Linked DNA regions of Homo sapiens. The protein of the gene in region 1 purifies or fractionates together with the protein of each later gene. This does not show direct contact. Each region holds a gene or a part of one and is shown in the gene's direction. Other genes may lie near its edges.

Region 1 (3,500 bases):
TCAATTCTGGTGTGTTCTTGCTCATCAAGTGGTCTTACTCATCAATTCACTTAACTTCCTGAATCTAATTTTTTTTTTTTTTTTGAGATGGAATTTCGCTCTTGTTGCCCAGGCTGGAGTGCAATGGTGCGATCTTGGCTCACTGCAACCTCTGCCTTCCGGGTTCAAGCAATTCTCCTGCCTCAGCCTCCCGAGTAGCTGGGATTACAGGCATGCACCACCATGTCCGGTTAATTTTATATTTTTAGTAAAGACGGGGTTTCACCGTGTTGGTCAGGCTGGTCTCGAACTCCTGACCTCATGTGATCCACCCACCACGGCCTCTCAAAGTGCTGGGATTACAGGCATGAGCCACCATGCCTGGCCTCTAATTTTTTTTAATCTATGCAGATACTACTTTCCCTGCCTAACTCACAAGATTGTGAAGTTAAATTAATACATTTTGGAAGGGATTTTAACTTTTTACATGTATTTTTCAAATATAAGGTGCCAGTATTATAATTTAATGTAATGTTTAAAGCTTGTTCAGTGTCTTCCCAATACAAAATCAGCCATCAGAACTGTGTTTCCGAACAGGGATTGGCATTAATGGTTTTGAGGTGTAGAAAACATCCTCTTAAAATATATTTTTAAAATATTATGACAAATTTTACAATGAGCAACCTGAAGAAGATTGGCACTTGTTAAATGTTACAGTTCTCCCACTTCAGAATGGAACTATCCATTTGCTTAATTTTTTTTTGAAATTCTAGCATTTTAAGATTGGAATAAATTAGAACAGGAAAACATGTTTTTCAAAATTATGTAGTTTTAAGAGTGGAATAAATATTAAATCAGGAGTTCTTAATCTTGGGTCCATTTATGGACGTTAGTAGTTGACCTGAGAACTCTCTAGAAATTACCATAAAAAAAAATGATGCACATATGCACATTTTTGTGAAGTGTGGTCCCATAGCTTTCACCACATTCTTAAAAAGATTGATGACCTTAAAGTTTACAAACAACTGGCTGGGCGCAGTGGCTCATGCCTGCAATCCCAGCATTTTGGGAGGCTGAGGCGGGTGGATCACTTGAGGTCAGGAGCTCAAGACCGCCTGGCCAACATGGTGAAACACTGTTTCTACTGAAATACAAAAAAATTAGCCAGGAATGGTGGCAGGCGCCTGTAATCCCAGCTACTCAGGAGGCTGAGGCAGGAGAATCGCTTGAACTCGGGAGGCAGAGTTTGCAGTGAGCCGAGATCACGCCATTGCACTCCAGCCTGGGCAAAAGAGTGAAAAACAAACAACAACAAAAAAGAAGAAAACAAAGAAGTTTACAAACTACTAACTAATTTAAAATATGATCAAAATTAAAAACCTAGCTTGTCTGTAGAGCCAGGGGCTGACAGTCTTGGGCCCAGCCTCTGGCCTCCGTGGGTACCCAGCTTCAGGCAGCTTGGCACCAAGCAGCGAGTGCCCAGCTATGTTTCATCCAGGAAAACTGCACCTGAGTACATGCCTCGTTCTCCACTTCATCTAAGCAAAGAAGAGATCCTACAAACAAGAATGTGAGTAGCCTCAGGTTCGAAAAACACAGGCTGCATTTTATTCACTTCTTACTTCCTCGTACCCAGCCCAGGGCCTGGTGACCACCAGACATTCTATATGCTTCATTAAATGAAATAAAAGAATGGCAGCCCCACTGTTCTGTTAATTCACCTAAATATTACTCTACCTCTCCGAACTTCGGTTTCCCCATTTATAAAATGGGGGTGAAAATAGAACCTTCCTTGTGGGACTGTTTCAAGGATGAAACAAATAATGCATGTAATCACATTTTGTGAACTCTACCTCACTCTATAAATGTAAAGACCCAGAAAATACAGAGACTGCTTTTGTGCAGCAACTTCTCAGATGTGCCCAGATATTATCAACATTTTAATGGCTAAAAAGGCCATGCCAGCTTTCCCACTGTGATAGTCTTCTATTCAATACAGTAAATATCCTAAATTACAGGCTTGTTCATGGAACTCCATAAAGATATTCTTCTTTTAAATGAAAGAAAAAGCAGTGACAAAACCATGTGCCCCTAAGTCATTTCCCATTTCCTGAATTGGCTCAGGTGCAAATAAGTTTGCTTGCCACTGCCCTAGACGGCTCAGAAATAAATTATGACTCTGCTACAATCTTCATTCTTGACATTGAACATTTGTTTGCTTCAGCATCTGGTAACAAAAGGGCTTCTCCTGGTCTCACATATGGAGCTAATAGCTTCCTTGATATATTAACTTTTCAAGATTAACACACACTCACTCTAATTTCTGTAGACAACTAAGAAAATGAAGAAGCTGGAAAAGGACACAGCCACATGGAAAGCCCGATTTGAGAACTGTAACAAAGCTCTGTTGGACATGATTGAAGAGGTGAGGAAGTTTCTCCCTTAGCTTTAATCCCCTCTGTCTAGTCAAAACATTCAAACTTACGATACAATTATAACCTGGTAATAGTACAAATGGTTATGTGTGAAAAAGAGTTGAATTTGGGGTGGCAGGATGTGACATTTTAAATTGTAATAAGTATAATAAGAGCAAAGGTCATTTAGAATCAGGTCCAGACTCAGAAAGAGTTTTGTGACCCTAAGTCACATGCTTACCTGTTGATTCAATAGCTGTACCCAGGGCAGCTGTCCCCTTTAAGGGCTGTGAATTCCTTAAAGGTAGGATGAGTGTCTTATTTTACTTTAAATTTCCCCAGTGTCTGACACATAACAGGTGCTGAATAAATTAATTAGTTGATTTGAACATACTGCGAGAAGACACCAGCCCAAGAGTCCAGTGCATGTGCTATTTTCTAATATAAACAGATATGGAGATATCTTTTTAATTCCTCCAATAGACATTTAAACACTGATCTCATGCCAGGCTCCAAGTAGGTTTTGAGAGTCCAAAGGCAAAGATACATGGCCCCTGACCTGAGAGGTAGGGCTTACAGGTGAAGGTCTCTCCATGTATAACGAGTGGGGGAAAAAAGGTCTCAAAGGGACAGAGTAGCTCAGAGGTGAGGTGAAGGAGTGAGATAATTAGGAACATTTTCATGCACAAATAGACATTTCTAGAGGAAAAAACTGAACCGTTTGAGCAGCCAGCATCGTGAATTAGTATATGGTGAATTTCTATGGTTATAATTACTGCTCTAACAATTCTTCTCAAATTGCAACCAATTCCAAAGAGATATTACTCATCAACATAAATCAAATGGCTGCTGGGATTAGCACATAGCAGTTTATTCATAGAACAGATAAGGAAGGCATTGCTGAAACCCAAGTCCCAATCCATCTCATTTATCTTGCCGCAAGTCTTGCTTCTACCTTCTAAGTCTCAGAAGCAGAAAATTCATCCATAAGATTTGAGAGGCTATGGACCAAAGCAGAAGGAAGCCTGACCATCTTTCTTTCCCAATGAACAGGGTATGGTGATTAAAGAATCTACCAGTCTAGTACACAATGCCAAAAAAAAAAAA
Region 2 (2,325 bases), on another chromosome or scaffold:
ATTAATGTGCTGAACGCTTTTTTTTTTTTTTTTTTTTTTTTTGCAACAACACCTTGGACCTCTGTGTTGGGGTTTGACTGACCTCAAGCTGATATTATTGGACCTTGTGCAGCTTTGATAACCCATGTGAGAGTCTAGGCAGGACCAGTGGGGCCCAAATCTTGCTGCTCTTGTACTTTTAGGCACTGCCCTTGCAGACTCACCTTTCTCCACCTGCCCTGGAGAAAGGTAGGGTGTGCTGGGCCTGCCCCTTGCAAATGGGATTCACCAGTTTCATTTATTTGACTCTACTGCCACAGTGAAAAGAGCAAACAGCTATTGGGTTGCAAACCTCCTTTGACATTAGGAAATGTTGACTTTGTAACAATAAAACTTTGGTCCTAGAAAGACACGGTTGTCCTGGGAGTTTGTAGTGTTAAGTTGCAACAACAACAACAAAAAGCAACAAAACCAGCTTAGGATAACACTTTTTGTTGCTTGTTCTTAAAGATGTCTCACTATGATTAAAACCCTTTTCATTAATGTAGTGAAAGCCACACAGGAGTTCCTTCTTCCAGGAGGAGAATACCAAGCACATCACTTTCTCTCTGCATCAGTGATGTCAAATACGCATCAGAAAATGTTCAGGTTTTAGGAGCTGTCCTAGGTGCTGTTTCATCATTGGAAGCAGTGAGAAAGAGAAGCACTGCTGCTTGTCTGGATATAGGCTGAGGATGATTGAGAGAAGCTGTGGGAACTGACACAAGGGTCTGCATAGGTCATCCTGTGACCCTGGGGACTATGTTACCAACTGACAGACAGATCTTTCACTGTATCCTAGCAGGGCAGGTAGTCCACCAAGAAATGTGCTTATTGGATTGGGAGGTGTTTATTTGTAGTCTGCTGTAACACGTGTGAAAGAGCAGGAGCGTCATCAGCATATGACTTGCGCTGGTCATCCGGTAAATGGATGTGCTGTAGTCCCAGTGCTAATCATTTCTCTCCTTCACAGTGGGTGGAAGTTTAGGGTTAAATGTCCTTTGAATGTCACCTGGTGAGTCCTTGACACCTTAGGCTCTTCAGAAACAATGGTTTTGTTGAGGATGGGGAACAGGGAATGCCGATTTTATATACATGGTACACAGAGAGGGGTGTCACTTCAGAAAATCTTCCAGCATGTTCTTCAGAATATTAATTTATATGCGAGGTGAGGTTGGGAATGAAAAGAACAGGTCAGCACTTTTTTTTTTCCTAGAACATACAAAAGAACATGGTGGACTTTCAGGGAGTGCAATGGAAGGTGAATATTTCCTTAAGGGTCCCCGAGAAATGGGAGTGAGGGGAGGGGACACAATGGCTTTTTGAGCTTACTTTTACCTTCTGATACTAGTCAAGGTCCAGAACCAGCCACCAGCCAAATTTCTATCTGGGTGCGGGCCACTGAAAATCCTTGTTAAAAACCAGATCACAAATCTGGGGCTCTTGGTCCCATTGGAGAAGGAAGGAAGAGCCTCAAAATAAGTGTGCACCCATGCACATATTCAGGAACAGCTTGTTTAGTCTTTACACTTTGCCTGAAAGTTGCTTCTCCTCGTCCCTTTGTGTGCCTGGGTGGCCTCGGCCCTGTGCGTTGGCAACGCAGGATCAAATGTGCTGCAGCTTTTGCAGAAAACAACTCAGAAACACAAAACCCCCCAACAGCTCAATTATTATTTTTTCAATGTTTTCCTACAAGAGCCAAGTAGCACCATGTACAGAAGACGCCTTTTTTTTTGGAATATTGAAATCGTTCTGCATGTAAAATATGGGATAATGACCTGTTTATATTAAAATTCTGATTAAATTATCTGAGAATACGCTTGTTTTTGTGTGGTGTCCCGGTAAGGACCTGTCGTGTGGTCGGGGGATGTGGCTATGAGTTGGGCTGTGTTAAGGAAAACCTCTTGGAATATGTAGGTGCCTTTTTTTAGAGGAGAAAAACACCTAGATTCTTCCACACATGAAAAGGGAGGTTAAATAGTTGCTACCAGCAGAGTTGATGACTCGTAGGGACATACTTGTATGGCCAAACTGGTGGTTTAAATATTGCACTATTTCCATACCATTTGGTAAGTAAGCGCTTCCCCAAGGGCTCCCAGACCTCCCCATGGTCCAACCACTAAAGGGTTCACTCCGAGAATACCAATGAACCTTCAAGATCTTGCTCTATTCTGACATGCGGGAAACTCATATGTTAAGTATTTTCAATGTCATCCTGGGAGTGGAGACCTGTCCCAGGTTGGGTGGACAGGTGAGTGACCATGGGTTAGACCATGGGATTGAAAGCCTTTTGAATAGTCTTTCTTG
Region 3 (3,500 bases), on another chromosome or scaffold:
TGGTGGATCTTGAGCTTCATTTTTATTCCACAAGCGTGAAAGGCTTTGATGATTTTTCAAGCAGGGGTGACGTGTACTGTACTTATGGCCAGGTGTAGTGGCCCACGCCTGTAATCCCAACATTTTGGGAGGTGAAGGCAGGAGGATCCCTCGAGCTCAGGAGTTCAAGACAAGCCTGGGCAACATAGTGAGACCCTGTCTCATCTCTACAAAAAAATACAAAAATTAGGCAGGCGTGGTGGCACACACCTATAATCCCAGCTACTGGGGAGGCTGAGTTGAGACAATTGCTTAAGCCCAGGAGTTGGAGGCTGCAGTGAGCTGTGACCATGCTACTTCACTCCAGTCTTGGCGACAGAGCCAGACCCTATCTCTAAAAAAGAAAATAACTGTATTTAAAGAATCAGAACTGTACCTAAAGAAGAATAATCTGATTCCCTTGTGGAGAATGAACTATTTATGAAGTTATTCAGTAGTCCAAGCAAGAAATGACCAGAGTCTGAGATAACGTGGTTGTGGTGGTAATAGAGAAGGGAAAATGGCTGTGACCAGGATGGAGAAGCAATAGGTTTTTCTGTGGGCCGCTAGGGAGAGGACAGAGCCAAGCATGGCACCAAGGGCACCAGGTTACTCCATCCTGAGTAACGTGGGAGCTAGTTGGTACCCTGGACGGAAATAAGAGTAGGAAAGACTGGGATGGGGTGAGAGGTAGACTGTTGAGTTTAAGGGGCCTGTAGGGCATGAAGACTGAGTTTTGATTTAAGAGAAAGAATAGAGTAGCAGAAATGGTACATGGAATGCCTACACAGAAGACCCAAGGCTGCGATGCTGGATACCTCAATTTGGGAGCTGGAGACTGGATATGCAGGATTGAGTTATTTGAGCTGAGAACCCAAGAAGGGCTGGCAATAGCTGAAGGCTTGAGTGTGTGTTAAATCTGAGAAGTGGAACCTTGACCTCTCTCATCACAATGGTTCACCTCCCGAGCCACCCCAACACACATACCCCTTTCCTTACCTGCTTTCCACTTCCCTCAGGCTGAGCTCCAAGTGGCACAACAGGAGAACCATCACTTAAATTTGGACCTGAAGGAGGCGAAGAGCTGGCAAGAGGAGCAGAGTGCTCAGGCTCAGCGACTGAAAGACAAGGTGGCCCAGATGAAGGACACCCTAGGCCAGGCCCAGCAGCGGGTGGTGAGTGAGGCCCCTTGGCAACAGGAAACGGGAAATTCCAAGGGCAAGTTGTAGAGAAGCCTGCGTGTCTAAAGAGAAGGGGAGAGACATGGCTAAAGACTAAACAACACAACCCCGAGTCCTAATGCAGTGGAGTGGAGGGAGCGTTTACCTCCCTGGCTGATGAATGATTCACTAGGAACTCTGATCTCCATCTCCTCCTTTCTCCTGAGGCCGAGCTGGAGCCCTTGAAGGAGCAGCTTCGAGGGGCCCAGGAGCTTGCAGCCTCAAGCCAGCAGAAAGCCACCCTTCTTGGGGAGGAGTTGGCCAGTGCAGCAGCAGCCAGGGACCGCACCATAGCCGAACTACACCGCAGCCGCCTGGAAGTGGCTGAAGTTAACGGCAGGCTGGCTGAGCTCGGTTTGCACTTGAAGGAAGAAAAATGCCAATGGAGCAAGGAGCGGGCAGGGCTGCTGCAGAGTGTGGAGGTAGAGGGATGGGGGGTACCTGGCAATCTGATGGCCACTGCCCCCACCTCTGTGGGGACTCCTACATGTGGTCAGACCCTCTGGGAGGAGAGAAGAGGGGTTGAGAACCTTAGAGGACTTGGGTGGAGAGGGGCTTTGAGGGAGGTACACTTTACTTTCTAGGCATGACCCATCCCTAACCGGGGTATCCCAATCCTGATCACCAGAGTACCTTCCTTGGAACAGAAACATTTTCTGTCCTAGACCCCAGGCCCTGCCATAATGCCCATTCCTGATCAAGCAGCACCTGCCGTCATGTCCTGTCCTTCATTCAGAGGGTATAGGAAATGAAGGCAAAAAGGGGAAAGTGCTCTAAAAATGATGCTTTAAATAAAGGAAAGGACACAGTAAGGGATGGTGCTGTTGACAGTGGCGTTCCTTTTTCTTCCCCCTCCACCCTCCCATTTTCCTTCTTGGCTATCTCTCAGGCAGAGAAGGACAAGATCCTGAAGCTGAGTGCAGAGATACTTCGATTGGAGAAGGCAGTTCAGGAGGAGAGGACCCAAAACCAAGTGTTCAAGACTGAGCTGGCCCGGGAGAAGGATTCTAGCCTGGTGAGGCATCCAGCCACCAAGGGTCCTGTCCTATGGCCTCCTGAGGCATCCATACCCCTTCTCTCTGTCTTGGGTATGGGCTCAGAAGTGCTAGGTGTCCACTACCATGTTGGGTGGCATTTCACTTGCACACGCAAGCCCTCATTGGTTTGAAATGTGCATTTTTTTCTGCTCTCAGGGCACACATCTGGGCCCAGTAGAGGTGACTTAGGAGAATTATAGAGTGGCCCCTTGGTATGACCAAGGCCTCTGCACCCCAGCCTAGAGGAAGTCATGCAGGTCCCCACTCGAGAGGCAGAGACTAAGACTTAGAAAACTGAGTATCTGTGGCCCAAGACAAAGTACTCATGGAGGAAGTGTTGGGAATTCCTGTGTGTGTGTGTCAGAGCAGGGAAGAAGCAGAGGCATGGGGAGACCTGGTTCTAGATTGTTGGTCCTGGTCCCAGAGTCCAGGTTCTTGGAGGTACATTCTAGGCTCCAGATTCCATTGGGCCCTCTTCCCTCAGGTACAGTTGTCAGAAAGTAAGCGGGAGCTGACAGAGCTGCGGTCAGCCCTGCGTGTGCTCCAGAAGGAAAAGGAGCAGTTACAGGAGGAGAAACAGGTGAGCACCCATAACCCAGGCCCCGTGGATGCCACAGGTGAGGACTTGAGGGCTAGAAACTTTGTAAATTCCTGTCATCTCTTGGCTTAGAAACTGTTCTCTCCAAGAGGGCCCGTACCCTGGCTTCTCTTATTAGCTGATTTGGCAGGACAGCGGATGATCTCTGGGAGAAGGGAGGGATGTAAGTGGTGAAGCAGGGGTGCTGGGGGGAGTGTCTGCCTGAAGTTGCCCCAATCTTTGCTGAAGGCATCTAATGCTGAGGAGCTAAGAGTTCTTCTTGGGTGCAGCTTCTGCAGGCTAGCAAGGTTGGCACCTTCCCATTCTCTAGCACCTGCCTTTTTCCTTCCCAATTCCAGGAATTGCTAGAGTACATGAGAAAGCTAGAGGCCCGCCTGGAGAAGGTGGCAGATGAGAAGTGGAATGAGGATGCCACCACAGAGGATGAGGAGGCCGCTGTGGGGCTGAGTCCGTGTAGCCCCAATCTTGTAACACCTCTTCCCCACTCTACCTCCCGCTGTTGAGGAAGGCTCCATGTAACCTTGCTGGGAGCTGCCTTTGCCTTCTATGTGTTTTGCCTTTTCTTTCCCAGACCCTGGCCCCTGTTTAGTCTAATGATACCCCTCATCCAGAGGAGACAGCTGGTCC
Region 4 (3,500 bases), on another chromosome or scaffold:
AAGAACTGAGTGCAAAGTCATAAAGGCAAAGTAAAGATTACAAATATCACTAATAGAAAATAAAACTGTTATACTTAATCATTTTGAGTCATAACTTGTCAAATTTCAGTGTTTAACAGTTAATACTCTTTGTCTTCCTTTAAAATAAAATGGTTTTTGAGGGGAATATTTTATCATTTTTTAAAGCCTCTTGAAGGAGTTCGTACTTGTAACATTTTTAATGTCTAAACTTCCCTGTGAGTAAGCAAAAGCCCTTTTAATTACTCCTTTTGTCTCAGCTCTGCATTCATTCTGATAGACCTTTTGTGACATTTCTCAGATGACTACATTCTGAAAGTAAAGGCTAATTCAGTATTTCTTTTTTTTCAACTATTATTACTACTACATTGTGTTCAGAGCTACAAGTAGAGCATCTCATTATCAAACTAATAATTCTCATGAGGAAAGCTTAAGTGCTGTTAAATCTTTTTTTGTTGTTAGCAGAGATTACTTGACTTGACGTGTTGACATACCATGGAGCACATTTTACTTCCTTGACAAGGCACAGAAGCAGTAAGGTATCCCTTGCATGGGTTTAACATAGTTTCGAAATACACCTCAGGGGTTTATTAAGACTGATTAACTACAAAGTTATTCCAGGTTTAACATGTCTTCGTTATTTGGAAAGCAGCAAATGCTTGAAATAAGAATGAAACAATTGAAGTTGAAAACTGATTGTATGTAATGGCTTTAGGCTATTTTTATGTAATTGAATTGTAATTGAATCTGTTTTCAGAGTTATGAACAAGAAAAATATACCCTTCAAAGAGAAGTTGAACTCAAGAGTCGAATGTTAGAAAGTTTGAGCTGCGAATGTGAAGCTATTAAACAACAACAAAAAATGCACCTGGAGAAATTGGAAGAACAACTAAGCAGAAGCCATGGACAGGAAGTGAATGAACTAAAAACTAAGGTTGGGATATCTGCGTATTTCAGCACAAAATATTCCATATTTATGCAGCCATCTGTAAACTTTAGATGATAAAGATTTTCTTAAGTGTCAGCTTTGCAAAATAGCCAAGATCTAAGTCTTCATTATCTTAATATTGGGGGTGGGAACACTGAGATACAAGAGTTTGTCTAAGGGACTTGTATAAATTATATCCTATTAATTAAATACAATTATTTAATTTTGGTTGCTGGATATTTGTGAAGGTTTAGTTTAGTGACTAGCATGGCCTCCTTGCTGATAGTGGGTACAGCAGCCCCTTGCAGAAAGCCTCGTCTCCTAGCCTTCCCTGCAGTCAGTGGTATGCTTTGTAATTCTGTAAAACAGACCAGTAGTTTCTTACTAGTTAATGTGCATTACAAATGACACTTTATAGTTTGTTTACTGAGGATAAACTAATACATGTGCTCCAGTTCTTACAATAATATTGTGGAAAGGTACCATTATCATTTCCATATACCAGATGAAAGAGCCAGTGTTTAGACAGACTGAGTAAATTGGACACAATTCAAGAACTAGAAATTCTCCATCTAGGTTTGAACTGAGGCTGTCTGACTCCAAAGGCTGTGTTACTGAATCACTACATAGTCTAACAGCATGTTACACTGGCTCCATTTCAAACATAAACGCAAGATAAATGATTGGTCAGTGGTTTTCCCTTTTCCCAGCTAGCCAGTGCTTTCAGGTTGCTTCTGAGGAATCCAGAACTTTTTATCATGGATCTGCTTTGTGTATAGTCTATACTCTGACTTTTCCAGACACTGTCTACCAAAACTTGCCTGACTTTTGTCCTCCTTTCTCAGAAGTCTGTTACCCAATTTTCAGCTTCTTGTATAGCAGCCTCTAAGATTTTTCTTTTTCTGTATACCACCTATACTATTACTTAATTTCTCATTGACTCTCTTTTAATGTTTACTGATTTTAAGAAACATCAATGAAAGTATTTTTTTTTCCTTTTTTTTTTTTTTTTTTTTGAGGCAGAGTCTCACACTGTCGCCCAGGCTGGAGTGCAGTGGCATGATCTCGGCTCACCTGCAACCTCTGCCTCCCGGGTTCAAACGATTCTCCTGCCTCAGGCTCCTAAGTGGCTGGGATTACAGGTGTGCGCCACCACGCCCAGCTAATTTTTGTATTTTAATAGAGACAGGGTTTCACCATGTTGGTCAGGCTGGTCTCTAACTCCTGACCTCGTGATCCGCCCACTTCAGCCTCGCAAAGTGCTGGGATTACAGGCCTGAGCCACTGCGCCTGGCCAAAATTACATATTTAAGCTTGCTTATTTTTTCCCAGTATACACTAAAACAAACATAGCTATCTAAATATACCTTCATGTAATATATAATCATCTTGCATACCACTCTGACAGATAATATCATCCAGCTTGTCTGAAACTAGTCGGATTTGAGGCCCTAATGACTGATAATGATGTGCTTTCTTCCCCCTCTGGTTGTTATTTTTATTTTTGCAATAGTTTTCATCACCTAAACAAAAAAGAGTAATAAAGGGAGTATTCAGGACTGAGGTAAGGCTAATTATAGAGATGGCTTTTTTTTTTTTTTTTTTTTTTGGTGGAGCAAAGAGTACATTAGTGAAATATTTTGTTTTACTGATTTTCTCAAATCACTTATGCCAAAATTTGGATTTTTTTAATACCTTTTCTTCTCTTATTTTTCACATTTAATTCATCAAGTTCTAAGAACTTGACCTACAAAACATCTATGACGCTACTGCCACTCCAATCCAGACCTTCATCATCTCTTTCCTGGACTACTGCTGTAGCCTTCTGACCAGGTTGCTTGCTTCCATTGTTTCTCTTCATGCCAGTCATTCTTCACACAGTAGCCAAGTGGTCCGCATCATAGTGCCTCCAGATTGCTTCTGAGGCATCCAGACCCACCCCGATTACTCATGGATTATTTCTATGTTTATTAAACAAGGTGTGTCACTAGCTGTTAAAAGATGCCTAACCTTGGGCAAATAGGAAACTCCAATAGTATCATCATTCAGTAAGTTTGGTTCAATCAGTTCAATCAGTGATTGTTTTTAGAAAGAAAATAACTTTCAATTTATGACTTTTTTTTTTTTGGCTTTAGATAGAAAAACTGAAAGTGGAATTAGATGAAGCCAGGCTTAGTGAAAAGCAGCTGAAGCACCAAGTAGATCATCAGAAGGAACTCCTCTCTTGTAAATCAGAGGAACTGCGCGTAATGTCTGAACGTGTGCAGGAAAGCATGTCTTCAGAGATGCTGGCTCTTCAAATTGAGCTGACAGAAATGGAGAGTATGAAGGTAATTTTTATGGCATGTGTTTCTCAGGGTTTTCTCTTTTTTTTTCTGGCATATTTTTACATGTTTTGGTAATAATTCTTAAGAGCTAGTTTGAAGGCTGAAACATTTTTTGACCTAACTTGCATCTAACTAATTAAAAAATGGGTTTTTTTTAGGTGGATGACTTCATTCATAATATAGCTTTAGACTATATGATTATGTAAGGCAGCCTTTCTCTTAGATTA

Evidence for each region. The genes of interacting proteins can lie anywhere in the genome.
Region 2: the proteins of TXLNB (region 1) and INSR purify together in Homo sapiens (co-immunoprecipitation; one large-scale study listed by IntAct). This does not show direct contact.
Region 3: the proteins of TXLNB (region 1) and CALCOCO1 purify together in Homo sapiens (affinity purification with mass spectrometry; 2 studies listed by BioGRID and IntAct, with this or other methods). This does not show direct contact.
Region 4: the proteins of TXLNB (region 1) and SPDL1 purify together in Homo sapiens (affinity purification with mass spectrometry; 2 studies listed by BioGRID and IntAct, with this or other methods). This does not show direct contact.

The regions. Positions count from the first base shown.
Region 1 is NC_000006.12:139,243,499-139,246,998, reverse strand, and holds part of TXLNB (beta-taxilin), read left to right. Parts: intron 1-2,308; coding exon 2,309-2,404; intron 2,405-3,500. UniProt on the Homo sapiens protein: Promotes motor nerve regeneration. May be involved in intracellular vesicle traffic.
Region 2 is NC_000019.10:7,111,765-7,114,089, reverse strand, and holds the end of INSR (insulin receptor isoform Long preproprotein), read left to right. Parts: 3' UTR 1-1,825; downstream 1,826-2,325. UniProt on the Homo sapiens protein: Receptor tyrosine kinase which mediates the pleiotropic actions of insulin.
Region 3 is NC_000012.12:53,713,953-53,717,452, reverse strand, and holds part of CALCOCO1 (calcium-binding and coiled-coil domain-containing protein 1), read left to right. Parts: intron 1-1,037; coding exon 1,038-1,193; intron 1,194-1,405; coding exon 1,406-1,660; intron 1,661-2,127; coding exon 2,128-2,253; intron 2,254-2,759; coding exon 2,760-2,855; intron 2,856-3,211; coding exon 3,212-3,320; intron 3,321-3,500. UniProt on the Homo sapiens protein: Functions as a coactivator for aryl hydrocarbon and nuclear receptors (NR). Recruited to promoters through its contact with the N-terminal basic helix-loop-helix-Per-Arnt-Sim (PAS) domain of transcription factors or coactivators, such as NCOA2.
Region 4 is NC_000005.10:169,590,273-169,593,772, forward strand, and holds part of SPDL1 (protein Spindly), read left to right. Parts: exon of another isoform or gene 1-557; intron 558-775; coding exon 776-952; intron 953-3,081; coding exon 3,082-3,276; intron 3,277-3,500. UniProt on the Homo sapiens protein: Required for the localization of dynein and dynactin to the mitotic kintochore.